Regions from separate parts of the Homo sapiens genome. Here region 1 is linked to region 2. Evidence: fine-mapped expression QTL. A gene starts in region 2. The other region holds a variant in brackets. All regions are shown on one strand. Distances are from middle to middle. Region 1 overlaps FAM120A (family with sequence similarity 120 member A). Region 2 holds the start of FAM120A (family with sequence similarity 120 member A).

What was found. PIP is the estimated chance that this variant, and not a neighbour inherited with it, causes the effect.
Region 1: its variant is fine-mapped to the expression of FAM120A in whole blood (INTERVAL, PIP above 0.99).

Annotation. Positions count from the first base shown.
Region 1 is chr9:93,499,933-93,508,270 of GRCh38, reverse strand. The region is part of intron 5 of FAM120A (family with sequence similarity 120 member A); the gene reads right to left. Among named protein-coding and RNA genes, the nearest start is that of FAM120AOS, 51 kb to the right of the region's middle. The variant G/A (reference allele first, on the strand shown) is at 3,227.
Region 2 is chr9:93,446,726-93,455,063 of GRCh38, reverse strand. It overlaps FAM120A (family with sequence similarity 120 member A), which reads right to left and starts at 3,379. Exons shown (of 18, transcript NM_014612.5): 1 at 2,675-3,379. The coding sequence starts at 3,148. It overlaps FAM120AOS (family with sequence similarity 120 member A opposite strand), which reads left to right and starts at 1,483. Exons shown (of 3, transcript NM_198841.4): 1 at 1,483-2,917; 2 at 4,465-4,585; 3 at 7,367-8,338. The coding sequence starts at 2,355. The coding sequence ends at 7,453. RefSeq lists enhancers at 1,283-1,577, 1,641-1,770, 3,350-3,899 and silencers at 2,490-2,669, 2,970-3,099, 3,240-3,769.

The sequences.
Region 1 (8,338 bases), 53 kb before region 2:
CTGTTCTTTGCTTAGTACTGATTAGCACCTTTTTCAACATGGTCCTATTTGCAAATTTCTTCTCTGACACACAGCAGCCTGGCTGCTCTACACATATGCCCTCAGTCTACTCACTCTGTGACCTCCCCATGCTGCTTAGTGGAGGCTAGACTTTCAAAAGACCAGGTAGCAGGAGGCTGTCTGCTATGAGAGATCAAGCTCCCCTACCTTCACTGTAAAACCACATGTGCACCAAAACCACTCCCTTCTGTATCTTTAACCCCTCTCTCTCAGTAGTCATCATCCCCATAACAACTTCAACCTGTTCAATTCTCCCCTGCATTTCAAAGCCCCACCCCTTTATGGAAATGACTGGAGAGAGGCGTGGTACTTGCCACCCATCCTATCCTCTTCTACGAATTTCTATACTGAGGAAGAAGGAAAGCTAAAAATGACTTTTCCTAGGATCCACTGCCTCTTATTGAGGGCCAACCAATTGTACATACACAAGGTTTGGGAGCTCCAAATTCAGCCGAAGCCTGCCCTGAGTGGTCCTACTGACACTCCATCTATCAGGCAGCGCCCTCATCTTGCCCAACCTCTCAGAACTCAGCGCTGCTAACAACTGTGCACAGGGTATCTCCCCTGGCCTCGCTGAGCCACTCTTTCTGTGCACCCACCTCCTGCATCTGGCCCCAGGGGCGCCATCTCTTTATCCTCCGCTTCCACCACCACAGCTCCTCTCAGCATTACACACCAGCAAAGCTGCAACCCATGACTCCAGCTTAGCTCCTCACTCTGCTTTCACCTGTGCATTCTAATGCCTGTTTCCCATCTCCACCGGGATCCTAGAAGGCGCCTCAACATTCGTATCCAAAACCATCCTCCAAATCTGCTCTTCCTCCAACCATCTTTATCTCATTAATGGCATCCTCACCTGAGCTGCTCAAGCCAAAACTCTGGGAGCCATTTCCCCCGAATTCTTTTCATTGAGCTTCTATAATCAAGCATCAATATCTACTATCTACTTATTCCATCTCCCAAAAACCTATGAAATCCACCCAGCACTCCTGCCTCCCACAGAGGAGAACTTGCCCCAGGGACTGCAACCATGCCTTGCCTCAATACTGAAAGAGTTTCCCACTCCTTTCCCTATACCTGCCCTTGCCCACTCTGATCCCCTCTGCACACTGAGGCCCAAGCAATTCAAATGCACACCTCAGCACACCACTCCCAGATTAAAACTCTTTCATGAGGATATTTCTTTAACATGGAAAAGGTAGAGGAGATAATGCTAAGGGTTAAGATGACAAGACATCAGACTCCCCCTTAAGATCAAGGGCTAGACAAGAACAGTCACCATCGCACCTTCTATTAAAAATCGTGCCCCGGCCAGGTGTGGTAGCTCACACCTGTCCATTTGTGGACAGCACTTTGGGAGGCCGAGGTGGGCAGATCATGAGGTCAGGAGTTCGAGATCAGCCTGGCTAACACAGTGAAACCCCGTCTCTACTAAAAATACAAAAATTAGCCGGGCATGGTGGCAGGCACCTGTAATCCCAGCTACTCGGGAGGCTGAGGCAGGAGAATTGCTTGAACCCAGGAGGTGGAGGTTGCAGTGAGCTGAGATTGTATCACTGCACTCCAGTCTGGGCGACAGAGCGAGACTCCATCTTGAAAACAAAAAAAAAAGAAGAAAAAAAAAAATCATGCCCTAAGTCACAGCTGGCTCAGTGGATCAGGAAGATCAAAAAGATACTAGAGGAGACACAATCAGCCAAAGCAAGATACAAATAAACTATGAAAATTAATAAGAACTGAGCAAAGTTGTTAAGATAAAATCAACTTACAGTATTAATTTGAAAATATAAGACACACATAGAAATAGCACCCAAAAATAAATATTTAGCAATATCTCTAAGAAAAGATGTTATGAATGCTTAATGAAGAAAATTCAAGTTTACGGAAAGATATTCAGGACAATTCAAATCAATAAAGAAATGTAACATTTTCTTTAGTACACTCAATAATAAAGATTTTATTCTTTCCAAATTGATCTACAGAGTTGGTGTAATTCCAATCAAAATCTCCACAAGGATCATAAAATGTACATAAAAGTGAAAAGGATCAAGAACAGTCTCGACCTCTTGCAGAAATATTACATGGGCAGATTTCCCCAATCAGACATCAAGTATTATTACAAGGCTATGGCAACTAGAACGGCATAATCCTGTGGCATGAAGATAATCAGAAATTCAACAGAACTGAGCCCAGAAACAGACCCACACACGGAGACACTCAACATGTCAGAAGAGGATAGCATTCTCAGTGGACAATACTAAGGCAACAGGTTCTCCACACGGTGAACAAGAAACTGAATTCCCTCACTCAAAAACCATAAACAAAATTCAGTGCCAGGTAGTATCAAAGGGCAAAATCATAAATAAAACTTTTAGAAGACAAAGTGTTTATCACCTCAGGCTAGGGAGGAATTCTTCCTTTATGTTTTCTTTTTCTCCTTCTCATGTAACACTTTAAACAAACACAAGAAAAAAGGGAACTGTACAATAAGCCACACATATCTATCAACCACCCTCAAAATTAACCAGCACACAGCCTATTGCGTGTCATCTGCACTTCCACCCTTCTTTGCCCACTACTGCATTATTGTGAAGCAAATCTCAGACATGACATCATTTCATCCATAAATACAGGATAGGACTTAAAGGTACAAACAACAAAGGGAAAAATTCATGTATTTGACATTAAGAACTCTGATATCAAAGCACATCATGAAGACAGAAAAATGCAAGCCACAGATTGGAAGATTATTATTTGCAGTCCATTTATCTGACTAGCATCCAATATATATATTAAGTATCCCTATGAATAAGCAAAAAGAAAAACAACCCAACAGAAACACAAGCGAACAGGCCGGGCGCAGTGGCTCACGCCTGTAATCCCAGCATTTCGGGAGGCCGAGGCGGGCGGATCACGAGGTCAGGAGATTGAGACCATCTTGGCTAGCATTGTGAAACCCCATCTCTACTAAAAATACAAAAAATTAGCCAGGCGTGGTGGCGAGTGCCTGTAGTCCCAGCTACTCGGGAAGCTGAGGCAGGAGAATGGTGTGAACCTGGGAGGCGGAGCTTGCAGTGAGCCGAGATTGCGCCACTGCACTCCAGCCTGGGTGACAGAGCGAGACTCCTTCTCAAAAAAAAAAAAAAAAAAAAAAAAAAACACAAGC[G/A]AACAACATGAACAAGCATTTCACAATAGAGGAAACCCTACTGGCCCATAAACATAAAGATTCTCAACCTCATTAGTAATCAGGGAAATGCAACTGAAACCTTTACAGGATATAGTTTCATAATCACTAGACCAAAAAATAATAAAACGTGGAGCAATGAGAGGGTTCTTTCACTTCTGCCAGGAGAATAAATAGGTGTATCCGTGTCCGGCAGCAGCAGAGGCTTGAACAGGGCCCTACCCTGGAGGTTCCCTGGAATTCCACTCCTGGGCACATCAGGTCACATGAAACAATGTTCACAAGTGCGCTATCCATCATGGCAAGCAGCTGGAAACAGTCCATTTTCCATCAACAGTAGAATGGACAAATATATATTAATACAATGGAATGCTGCACAGCATTAAAAAATGAACTATGCCAACATGAATGAAACACAATAATATAAATATTAAGAAGGCAAGTCAGAGGAGTACATGCTATATGATTTTATTTCATAACAAACAAAATGAAACTATTTAGTATCCAGACATACAGACACGATAAAATTATATAGAGAAGCACAGAATAACTAATACAAAATTGAGGGTGGTAGAGAGTCGAGGAATGCAACCAGCGAAGACATATAAGAGGGCTAAGATATTAGTAATGTTCTAAGACTAACACATTGTAGTATGATAGTTACAAAATCATTTTTTTTACAGGTAAAAATTATTCCATGAGCTTTCACGTTCTAAGAATAAAGTCTAAAATCCAAGGTGGTGCCTGGCAACTGCACTGCCGCTCTCAGCATCACCTGACCACTCTCCCCGCTTTCTGTGCTTCAACCACATTCTTCTTATTTTTCTTCTTCACTATGTCCTCCTAACTCAGGACCTCTCACATGCCACCTCCCCTGCATGGAATACACTTCTTCCCATATTGGCACCTTGCTAGATGCCTGAACCCCCAAACCCCACTCAACAATAATCTAATCAATCAGAACCAGCCATTTTAATCGTAGATTGATTCAATCAGGTTGGTCTTCCTTGAGGTTCCTGTTCTCTTTCCTGCAGGATTCCCTGGTGTTCACTTCCCCACTATACATTCATCTGTAGGGGCAACGGTAACTCCTCTCTTATTTACCACACCATTCAGCACCCAGCACACTGCCTGTCATGAAATGCACAAATCAACGAGCTCTTTACTTTAAAATATATATATATATACTTTTTTTTTTGAGCAGTTTCAAGGTTACAAAAATCTTGAGCAGAGTACACACTTCGCATTGGTGTGACACATTTGTTCCAACCAATGAGCCAAACCTGGCTACATTATGATTACCTAATGCCCACAGTTGGCATTAGGGTTCACTCTTGGTGCTGTACGTATTCTGGATATGGCTAGAAGTATAATGCCATGTATCCACCGTTACAGTATCATACAGAATAGTTTCACTGCCCCAAAAATCTGCCTAATCATCCCTCCCTCCCCACAACCTCTGGCAACCCTTGATCTTTTTCCTGCCTCCATACTTTTGGCCTTTTCCAGATGTCCTATAGTTGGAATCGCACAGTATGTAGCCTTTTCTGATTGGCTTCTTTCACTTAGTGATATGTACTTATGTTCCTCTGCATCTTTTCATGGCTTGATAGCGCATTGCTTTTTAGTGTTGATTATTTCATTGCTTAGATACACCAAACTTTATTTCCCTGTTGACCTACTGAAGACATATTGGTAGCCTCCAAGCGTTGGCTATTATGAATAAAGTTGCTTTAAATATCTGTGTGCAGGTTTTTGCGTAGACATAAGTTTTCAACTCCTTTGGGCAAACACCAACAAGCATGACTTGGGAATTTTGTAAATATCTGCGAAGCTGTCTTCCAAAGTCGCTGTACCATTTTTGCAATCCCATTAGCAGCACAATCTGTTGCTACCCATCCTCACCAGCATTTAGTGTTGTTGGTGTTTTCTATGTTAATCATTCTAACAAATGTGTAATTAAAATGTGTAGTAGGAGCCCATTTACTTTTCACTAAGGAAGGCCAATGACACAGTGGCTACTTCTTCAGCCTCAATTTCACCTGCACACGGGATCTGTGCCCATAGATTCCACATCCACAGATCTGAGGTGAGACCTCAGTGTTAGTTGTGTTACTTGTTACTTTAGTAAATTCCACCAATGATTTTGAAGCAACTGGTTTAACTAGGGAACTAAATATTTTGAAATCTCAACTATCACATATCTTATTTGTGCTTGCATTTAGATTGGTGATTTCGTGGAGAGCTATAGCAGATTTTACATGCTGAGACAGAAAGAACAAATCACAACCATTTCCAGATAGGCAGGTCCTCGCTTAGTAATTATGACATAGTGAATGCTTAAAAATAAGTATGCATCTCACCACCACTTATTTTCAAAATCATCTCAAAATACACAATTTCTGGGAGACTATATTGCAAGTGTGCGTGTGTGTGTGTGTGTGTGTGTGTGTGTGTGTGTATGTGTCCTCCTAAGAACTCTACACTACCCAATAACTGTTTAGAGATCTGAGGTATTTTTCTCAATATTGCAGATAGATTTACAGGCTTACAAAGAAAGGCACAGAGGATGAGTTGTGGTTCCTAAAAGCCAGGCCAACTGGTACCTAGCTAGGAACATTCCTTTTTAAAAAATATAAATTCCTAAGGCCCAATTAAGATGCTAAAATAGCAGTTTTGAGGTGGAATCTAAAATTCCAGCCAAGTTTAGAAACCTCTGGTTAGATCAACTCACCCCATGTTTTTCCCCTATAGCCATGCTCTCTAAGCTTATAATATGATTACCCTAAAATTTCTTCAAAACTCTACACATATTCCAATTTCTGAATGATTAATAAGATAAATTCTAATACAACAAGAAACTAATATCCCCACATTGGTTCTTCAAAATTCTGAATTATTTTCCTGTAGAATAATATAATGGACTGTGGTTGGATTCTATGACAGATCACCAAAGACCACTTAGGACCTATCTACTACTTATAAAAATATTTCTGTGGAAAATACATCATGGGTTCTAACTTGAGTTGCCAGAAAGGGTCCCACCGACTCCATGTTGTTCCTTCTAGACTTTCAACTTAGGTTCCAGTCTTCGCCCTGTTAGTTTCACTGGTAGGATCCCAGTAGTATGCAGGGGTAAAAATCAATGACAGCTAATGTAATTTATGTTTCTTCAGAGTTATCAGAAAAAAACTAAAGTTATTTTTACAAGAATCCATTTCTGCTAGTTCCAAATCATGTGTATGCAGCTTGAAACAAAACGTCCTTCCCAATCTTGCCTGAAGCCTCTCTCCAGGCTTGTCTCCTGCCATTCCAGACTGCATACCCGTCATCTTAAAATTCTACACTGCCCAAACTTCCTGCCTGGCTGTCATTCTGTGCCTGTACTTTTGTTAGTCCCTCCGCATACAACCCTCATTTCTGCAACAGCCAGAAGCATCAGGGAATGCTGTACAGGAGGATTTACAGGCAGTTCATGCCTACCCTAAGCTGCCTCAAACTATCATCCCAAGCATCCCAAACTCTACCAGTTACTTTGCTGTTCTCCATAAACCACCGAGTAGTGAAAATGAAAGTGAAACTAAATTCTGAGTAAACTTCACCTCTAAAATACTCACCTAAAATCTTAATAATTTGATAAGAACACAAAAGCACTTGACAGAACATATTTTTAAGATATTCAAACTTAACTCACCTTGCCTATTCAAAACATCTTCATAATTATGAGCCCAGATCAATGCCAAATATTAAGTGTGCTGCCTTTCTCTATACTTATCTTCCTAATTTTCTCCTAAGTAGATTTTCCAGTCCCAAGTACACTCTAAGGACTTTCTAAACTACACCTGCCATACAGACTGTCCCACAGGAGCACAATGTCAGTGAAACACAGGAGACTGCCGGCCCCACCTCTGAGCGCTCCTTCAGGCTCCTCACTGCTCATTCCAATGCCCAATCATTCAGTGCCTGTTGAGGCCATTCTGCCAATGAGAAGAATAATGACAGTATCTACTATCAGACAGTATCTGTTATTCTTATAGGCAGAATTACCTAAAAGGGCATTGAATGACTGAACAAGTACTTCACTAAAGCACCTTACATACGCCTTCTCTTTTAATATTCACATAATGACCCCATTCTATAAAATAGGGAGCTCGAGGTCAGGAGGCAGTAGGCCACAGGTGGCAATGTTCATGCTCCCCATCATTCCCACAAGCAATTATTAGACATCTTCTGTGTGCAGGGTATACAGTAGACACACTGAGATCTGGTCCCATAATGCCTCACCTTAACTGATGAAACAGTATACAGCTAGTCTCCCTCCTGCTGATGCTCTGTGCCCCCTTTTCCAAAAATAATCCTAAAACACATCTCACCACTTCACTCTCTTGATTTAAAAACCAAGTGGATCAATTCATTCAGTCAAATATTTATCCACTGGGGATATAAAAGTAAAGGTGACTAATAGGCCCTCATTACCCTAGACTTTACATTGTGGGGAGTGACGGGGGAAGGGGTGGTGGTGGTGACAAATAGAAGCCAAGGAGTGTGCAGAGATTTAAAGCCAGGCAGACCTTGGAGAACACGACAGCCTGGATCTCACAAATCAGAAGGGCACAAACACAAGCTGGTCAGAGAAAGGAGCCCTCCAGGCACAAAAGCCGGCCCAGAGGCCCAGGGCAGAAGCTAGCTTGGTTCATGCAAGGCAAGAAAGGAGGCTGCGCTCAGGAGTGAGAAGCCAGCAGTCTCAGATGATGGGGAGGAAGCAAGGTAAGTAGTTGGGAATTTATTCCAAGTGTGACGGGAAGCCAATGGGGAATTCTGAGCATGGGAGTAGCACAGTCCAACTGCCATTTTTAAACATTACTTTGGCTGCTGGGAAGAAAATGGATTGCAGGGGAGCAAGAGAGCAGCAAAGAGCCCCACTGGGAGGCTGCTGCCATTTACTGACCTCGCAGTGGAGATTCAGCCACTCCATGCCCATCTCCAGGTTACAAGCCCTACCTCCTTTATTACAGGGCATCGGCACAGGCCATGTTTCCCTGTCCACCACCCAGCCACATACATAGGCAGCCAAAGCCAGTGCCATGCCTCTGA
Region 2 (8,338 bases):
AAAAGTCTTCATTAGGAAAATACCCAGGAGTGGAATTGCTGGATCGTATGATAAATGTATGTTTAACTTTATAAGAAAGTGCCACTGTTTTCTGGAGTGGTGGTGCCATTCTGCATTCCCACAAGCAATGTGTAAGGATCCAGTTGCTCAGCATTCTTGCTAGCACTTGGTATTGCTCATATTTTTTTCTCTTTTAGCCATTCTAATAGGCATGTAGTGATATCATGGTTTTAAACGTTTTAACCACTTTATGGGTATCTTTTATTAAATGGTATACACTGTTTCAATCCCTTAAACAGAGAATGCTGAATATTAATTTTTATGACTCAAAATCATCCTTATAGAATAAACATTGTACTACCCTCAGGGACCAAGGAAGTACATAGGGTTGTTTTCCTTTTCTTAAAATAGCCCCAGAATTATGTTTGCTTTTTATAGCTTTTTAAATCTCTCTTGTCACTTCTTGCTATTAATGGTGCTCCTGCCTCTGGCAGACTCTCCTCTTCATCCTCTTCTCAAGCTGAGTTTAGAAAATAGATAACCAAGCTTGTTAGAATTACATATGAAAAGAGGCCAGTCCATGAGTGAGAGAGCTTAAAGGATTCTTCAGTGAGGAAAGCAAAAGCACCCCCCTACACCCGCCAACCCCCCACATCACTGTACCCAAACTTCCTGACATCTTGCTTGGTTGCTGAGAAATTTCTAGTAGCTAAATCTCTTAGGCACTTTTCAAAAAGGTAAGGTTGCCAGCTAAGAGACCACCAAGTAATTGAGTTATTACAATATTCATTTTGTGCAATTCGCACTATAATATGACCCTAGGTCAATAATTAAAAGCTTAGCAAAAGCAAAATACAGACAAAATTATCCCATTATCCCGTGTCCAGAAACCTAAGTGAAAAAGACGATCTTAAATGGAGCTTAAATCTAGTTTCCTAACACTGACACATTGGTCTGAATTCTGAGCACCTACTAGGTGTGCGAGGCATTCAAAGGGGTGCAAAGATAAAGAAACTGTAGAATTAAAAAGAACTCAACAGTTCTTTAAAGATACAGTGACCATATGCATACATACTGATTCTAATCCTAAGTAATATTCACAGTGTTCCCTTGAAAGTCGCTTGACTAGTTAAGTAGAGAGCTGTGCGGTTACCAAAGGCAAGTCAGTGCAGCTCATCCTGTCTTTTAAGTAGTCTTTTCCATCTCTGAACAAGACTAAACTATGAACACTTTTACGCTCTATTAGGGAGATGGATCGCTTCAGACAAATGGCAGCACCTTACTTCCCTGAGCGCCCCAGGCTCCGATTCAGAAATTAAAAGGCAGGCACTTCCTCTCACCCGAACTTCCCTGAGGAATGGCAGCTGTGTGTCTGCCAGGCGCAGGGGCCAATCGGGACTCTGCCGGCCGCCTCCACCCACGACTTAAACACCATCTCACCAATTGCAACCGGATCGTGGGTGGGACTTCCGCTATCATTTTAGGCTTAACTACCACCATCTCCTCGCGGGCAGTGGGGGCAACCGCGAAGACAGAATTTCACAAACTTTCAGCTCCAGCAGTTTCAAGGAAATGTCAAATGACAAGATGGAAGACCGAGTGTCAAGAGCTAAGACAACAAAAAGGCCCCCAAAATTTGTTTTCAAGAAAACCAATGAAAAAAGCAAGCAATCAGAACGTGAAGTCCAGGATCATGGATGTGCTTATCTTCACAGTCACTGCTGGGTCCTGAAGTTCTCCTCTGGCCCAGTGCCAGCTGCGAAGCCCTCTGCCAAAGGGCCAGAGGAGGCCGGTGATATAGAGCTCTGATTACCCACCCGTCAGGGCACCGCTGAAGGTCACTGAATACTTACTGTGCACCCGAAAAATAAATCCTGCGAGTTCACGCCCGCGTAGTTCGCCCCCTGATTTTGAGCGACTCCTTTCGCATGGGATCTACAAAACCGAACTGCCTTAAAGACCTCTTTCACACGGACGTGAAGTCACAGAACTGACAAAATCCCATCCTGTCAAAGTGCACGGGTCTTTGAAATCTAACACAAAAAGCCATAGAAAGATTCTCTAAACACCCTGTACTAAGAGGAACACGGACAGGGCACTGCGTTCTGAAGTAGAGGCCAGGGCACTGGCCCTTAGACACGTCTCGCTGTCACCGGGCTAACAACATTGGCAAGGGCGGCGGCAGCAGCACTGATATTTGCAGCCCCCAAGGGCTCTGGCGAAACCCCCTCTATTACTCTGTATCCTGCCTGCTTCCAAGATGAACCTGTTGCTGGGAAAGAACAGGCTAAATTAGAAAAGGGAGTATTTTGTCAAAGTTGAAGGTGAGTGATAGCCTGCCCGCCTCAAATAGGATGGGAAAAACTAAGGATATTGGGGATGATGACACTGTCGCCTCCGAATTCTGGTCCGGGGCTCTCTCCCAGCCCTCAAGTGTCCCCACGCGGCCGCGGACCCCGAACAGGGACAGCTGGAGACGGGCTTGGGCAGCGCGCGGCCTGCACCCGCGGCCATCCATCTTGCAGCCCGGCCCGGCCAGGCTATCCCGGGCAAGGGCTGGGGGAACTCGCTGCCCCCAGCGCCGCCACGGCCGGGCGACATTCTGCGCCCTGGGAAGGGGGATAGGGGTGCGGCGCGGCCCCGGTCCCCGGCCCGCCCGGATCCCCGGCCTCACCTTGACGTGGAAGCGGATGAGCGCCAGGCGGATGCAGTGGGCCATGCAGACGGGCGGCAGGAACCAGACCTTTGGCGGCGGGGTGCCCTTGTTCTGGACATGGCTGACGATCTGCTGTGCCGTCTGGCGCTCGTTGCCCTGCCGCTTGACCCACTCGTGCAGCCGGGCCTTCTCGAGCGCGCCGTTGAAGAAGACGAAGAGCTCGATGTTGCCGCCGAAGCAGGCCTTGGCCAGCGCCGCCAGGTAGCCAAGCATGTGGTTCCACTGGCCGCCGCTGACCCAGTCGGTGTAGAAGCCGCCGTAGAGGCGGTGCAGGCAGTTGTCGGCGTCCACCAGCAGGCGCAGCGGGGTCTGCGGGGGCCGCTGCCGCCCGCCGCCCACCAGGCTGCCCCGGGCCAGCTTCTGCAGCTCCACCGGCACCACGGCGCTCGGGCAGTGCTTCTCGATGTAGTCCTGGAAGCCCTGCACGCCCATGGCGGCGGCGGGGGCGCGGGCGCGGGTGCGGGCGGGGGGCGGCGGGGCCGGGGGTGGTGGGGCCGTGGCGCGCGGGCGGGCTGGCGGGCGGGGGCGGCGGCCTCTAGGGGGGACTGGGGCGGGTCGGGGGCGCGCTCATGGCCGCCGCGGCCGCCATGTGCTGCCGCCTCCCAGGGCCATGTCTGGGGAGGGACCTGCCGCCGCCGCCGCTGCCGCCGCTGCGAGGCCGAGGCCGAGGCCGAGGCTGAGGGCCGGGGCGGGGCGGGCGGGCGGCGCTGACGTAGCGGACCCGCCCGGCGCGGACGCCGCCCAGGCCCGCCGGCTAGCAGGCGGAAGAGGCGGCGCCGGCGGGACGCGGCTCGGGGCTCCCGGAGGCGGCGGCGGAGGCGGAGGCCCGGAGTTGGGCCGGGACGGGATCCGGGAGGCTTCTGAGCCGGAGCAGGCAGCGCCTGGAGGCCAGAGGCCGTTCGCCCGCCTCAGGCCGGTCGGCCGCCGCTCCCCTCCCCTGCGCCCTGTTCCCGGCAGGGCCAGAGAGGCCGCCGCCTCCGCCCGGTGGTTCTCGGGCGAAGGGAAGCCGCGAAGCAGGTCCTGGGGAAGAGCTCGCCTGCTCCTGAGGGAAGCAGCGATAAGATGGCGCTTTGAAGGGGAGCCGAGGCCGAGTCACTCTGTTCGTCGGGACGCCGCCTTTCTAACGCCGCCGTCGGCTCGCACCACTCTGGGCCTGCTGCCCACACTGACTGCGGGGTCCGGGAGAGCGGGATGCTGGCCGGCCGCGCCTGGCTTCTTGGAAAGAGCAGGAAGGAGCGCGAGAATGCAGTTCCGCGGCAGGTGCTCATCCCAGCAGCTTCGGGCTCTCGGTTGTGGTTTTTACACCTATGACAAATGACATGGCCAAACACACCATAATGTCTGAAGGTACAGGTAGCCCTAAGCGCCTGCTCGTCACGGAAGAGACTGTCTTGAGAGCACAGGTCTGTTGCAGCGTGGGAAAGCCTGCGTTACCACTGCGCAATGGCTAGACTGAAACGTGCGCCTTTGCAGTGGATCTCCCAGCTCTTCTGAGGGAGAGGGATTTGAATCTTGTTGCTTTAGTAGCATCTTCTGGAAGGAGGTCGTTTACGTAAATTCTGTTCCAAAGCTCTGTCGTAACTGCTTCTAAAATGAGGTTGATACTGTATGTATATTAGGCTTGCATAAAACATTTTCAAAAAGAGATTAATGTCTTTCAGAATATAAATTTAGAAACCCAGCACTCTAAAAGTTTTAAAGTGCCGCTTTTACTTACCTTCATCTCTCCATTTGTTCTTTTTTTGGAGAAACCTCTGTAGAGGAGCAGGATGCAACCGACAGGCTGTGGCCGGACAGCTGCTGCCCAGCACATGGAGCCTGCACGCGCACGGTTTGGCCAAAGAAGCCCCCATACTCCCGGTGAAAAAGGCAAGTTGGATTTTTCTGCTTTCTTTTCTGATACCCACCTCAAATGCAAGCCAGTATCATACGTACATAAATTAAATGCTGCTGGTATTTTAGGAAGTTACATTTAAAAGCAGGCTGACAAGTTATGCCACTCACCTATGCATAAAATTAGTCACAAAGCCAGGATGACATGTTATCTAAAAATAATACAGGCCAGGTGCGGTGGCTCACGCCTGTAATCCCAGCATTTTGGGAGGCCGAGGCGGGTGAATCATTTGAGATCAGGAGTTCGAGACCAGCCTGGCCAACATGGTGAAACCCCGTCTCTACTAAAAATGCAAAAATTAGGCGGGCCTGGTGGTGTGTGCGCCTGTAATCCCAGCTACTTGGGAGGCTGAGGCAGGAGAATTGGTTGAACCCGGGAGGCGGAGGTTGCAGTCAGCGGAGATGGCACCACTGCACTCTCTAGCCTGGGCAAAAAGCGAGATTCCGTCTCAAAAATAAATAAATAAATAAAAGAAATAATACAGTTAGCCATTAAATAACGAGCAAAATCCAGAAATATCCAAATTTGCTTTTATAACCCAAGGCAGGTTCACAAGGTGAGGAGTAGTAGTTTTTAATCACTCGTATTTTCATTTGTAGCATTGCATTCCGTGTATTTACCTTTTCTTTAAACACTCTTGCTTTTAATTTTTAAAAATGCATTAGTGCGGCCGGGCGTGGTGGCTCACGCCTGTAATCCCAGCACGTTGGGAGGCCGAGGCGGGCAGATCACGAGGTCAAGAGATGGAGACCATCCTAGCCAACATGGTAAAACCCCATCTCTACTAAAAACACAAAAATTAGCCGAGCGTGGTGGTGCGCACCTGTAGTCCCAGCTACTCGGGAGGCTGAGGCAGGAGAATTGCTTGAACCTGGGAGGTGGAGGTTGCAGTGATCACGCCACTGCACTCCAGACTGGCAACAGAGCGAGGCTCCATCTCAAAAAAAAAAAAAAAAAAAAATGCCAGTGCCAGTATCTGGAATTCTGGAAATAAATTTATTTTCACCTTATTATATTGTAGAGGTCTAAGGTTCTGGAGTCAGGCCCCCAATATCCATCTTATGATAAGTCTGTGCCCTTGCAAAAATATTTACCTTATTGAACCTTGGATTTTATCATCTGTAAAATCAACATATTAATAGTACTTAACCTCCCAGGTTGTTATAAGGATTAAATCAGATAACCTGTGTGCCTGCCACACAACAAATGCTCAATAAATGTTGGCTTTTGTAGTTATTTCCAGAAACTGTATTTGTCTAGACTTATACTCGAGAACATAGACCAGTTATTGTACTTTTGGAAAGTTTAAAATTCATTATTGTATCATAACACATAAAACTCAATTCTTAGTTGCCCTATTTAGCTTTGTGTTCTTTAAAAAAAAAAAAAAAAAACTTTATTTATTGAGTAGCTATTGATGGTGGGCAAAATGTTTAGCTGACAAACACTTATATACTCTGCATCCTTAACTCAAATTCAGGGGTTGGTTGAAGTTAAATTGCTTAAATATTGAGGTAAAAATAAACATCTGGGCCGGGCGCAGTGGCTCACGCCTGTAATCCCAGCACTTTGGGAGGCTGAGGTGGGCGGATCACAAGGTCAGGAAATCCAGACCATCCTGGCTAACACGGTGAAACTCCGTCTCTACTAAAAAAAATACAAAAAAAAATTAGCCGGGCGTGGTGGCAGGCGCCTATAGTCCCAGCTACTCAGGAGGCTGAGGCAGGAGAATGGCGTGAACCCAGGAGGCGGAGCTTGCAGTGAGCCGAGATCACGCCACTGCATTCTAGCCTGGGCAACAGAGCGAGACTCCATCTTAAAAATAAAAAATAAAAAATAAACATCTGTATTTAAAATTTAATAAAAAGTTATGTCTTCTTGGAGGTTACAATATGACAACTAATGGTTGGGGACTTTTTCTTTTTTTATTTTGTATTTATTTTATTTATTTTTTCTCCCCCAAGATGGAGTCTTGCTCTGTTGCCCAGGCTGGAGTACAATGATGTGTTCTCAGCTCACTGCAACCTCCCTCTCCCAGGTTCAAGTGATCTCCTGCCTCAGCCTCTGGAGTAGCTGGGATTACAGGTACACACCATCACACCTGGCTAAGTTTTGTATTTTTAGTAGAGACGGGGTTTCACCATGTTGGCCAGGCCAGTCTCGAACTCCTGACTTCAAGTGATCCACTTGCCTCTGCCTCCCAAAGTGCAGGGATTACAGGCATGAGCTACCGCGCCCAGCCTAATATCATTAATTAATATTTTACTTAGGTGAGGTATCTAACCACCAACAATAACAGATGAGTTTCCAGTTTTTCAAACAAGGTAATAAGAGACCTTAATGCTGCCCATGTAATCATTAGCAGATGTTGGGAGACCAGCAGACTGGAGCTAAGCAGGGAGTCTGCGATCATGGAAGAGAGCAAATTAATCCACACTAGGGATTCTAACCTATAATGTTTACCTAGCACCAGCCCTGTTAATTAATTGTCAATTTAAATTACCCAGAAGAACACACACATCTGTAGGCCTGCTTCATAAATGGTAGATCAGTAACTGACCACACTGCAGCCGTGTATCGGCAGTTGAGTTTTTTGGTCTTCAGGCTCTGCTATCTCTCCAGTACTATGAGTTATCAGCAGTAGCAGAGGGTAGGAGAGCTCCACAGAGATCAATATTCGGACTCTGGAGACCATGACAAAATACATTTCATATTCCAAACTAATATATAAACTACCTTTTTTTTTTTCTTTTCAGATTTCCAGAAGCTGTTCTGTCAATAACAAAGTCTCAAAGAAAACCACAAAACCACCAACACTAAGATCATTCTTGAGTCCAATTTGAAAAACTAGGGTCAAGTTCTGCAGAGGCATTGAAAGGACAAGAAACCACCCTGATACCCATCGTGTGAGGGAAAATGCTCTATTCACCATTCCTCAGCTTCTGCTTCTGGTTTCAGAGTTCTCTCTATATTGGAGGGTGTTTTAAAGCTAGAGTGGTCTTTATCCACTTTTATTAACACATCTGAATGTGAAGGTCAAGAGAGGAAAGTGATATGTCCTAAGTCAGAGTAGAGTCAACAAGAAAATAAGACAAACAGCGACTGAGCCCCTGGTGTATACTGGGCATTGGCCAGCTACTGGGGATATGGAGATGAAGAAAACATAACCCTTCTTCAAGGAGCCCAACCTACCAAGGTAGACAGACATATAGACAAATAGATACTTGCATAGAAAAAAAGAGGAAAAGGGGATCAGTGTGACCTGTGTAACTAAGTACCCTATAAACCCTCCTGCAACAGATCATATTGCCCTTTATAGTGGGGATGGTAATCCCATCTGAATTCCACAGGTACTTTGCAGTCATACCACACCCATGTGTCTGTCGGTCCTGACTGTACCATTTATAAACAGCTTCACTTTCAGCAGTTCTCAGCCCTCTTAAGCTAGGGTCATTGTCAGTAGGGATACTGCTTCATAAGCACCAGCAGAACACCAAAGGAGACCATATGGGTGAAAGCAACCAGCACTGCCCTGGCGCTTCATAGGTTCTTAGAGTTTTTATCTTTTACTTTCAGTCTAACACAGCACTGCCTGCTTTTTGTTTTTGTTGCTTGGTTTGTTTTTTTCTTACCGTGTTCACCAAACTTGTGTCCAAATAGCTTTGGGCTGATGCAAAAATATCTATGTGGAAGAGAAGAGTTGTTCTCATGGAGGGCCTTCAGATGAG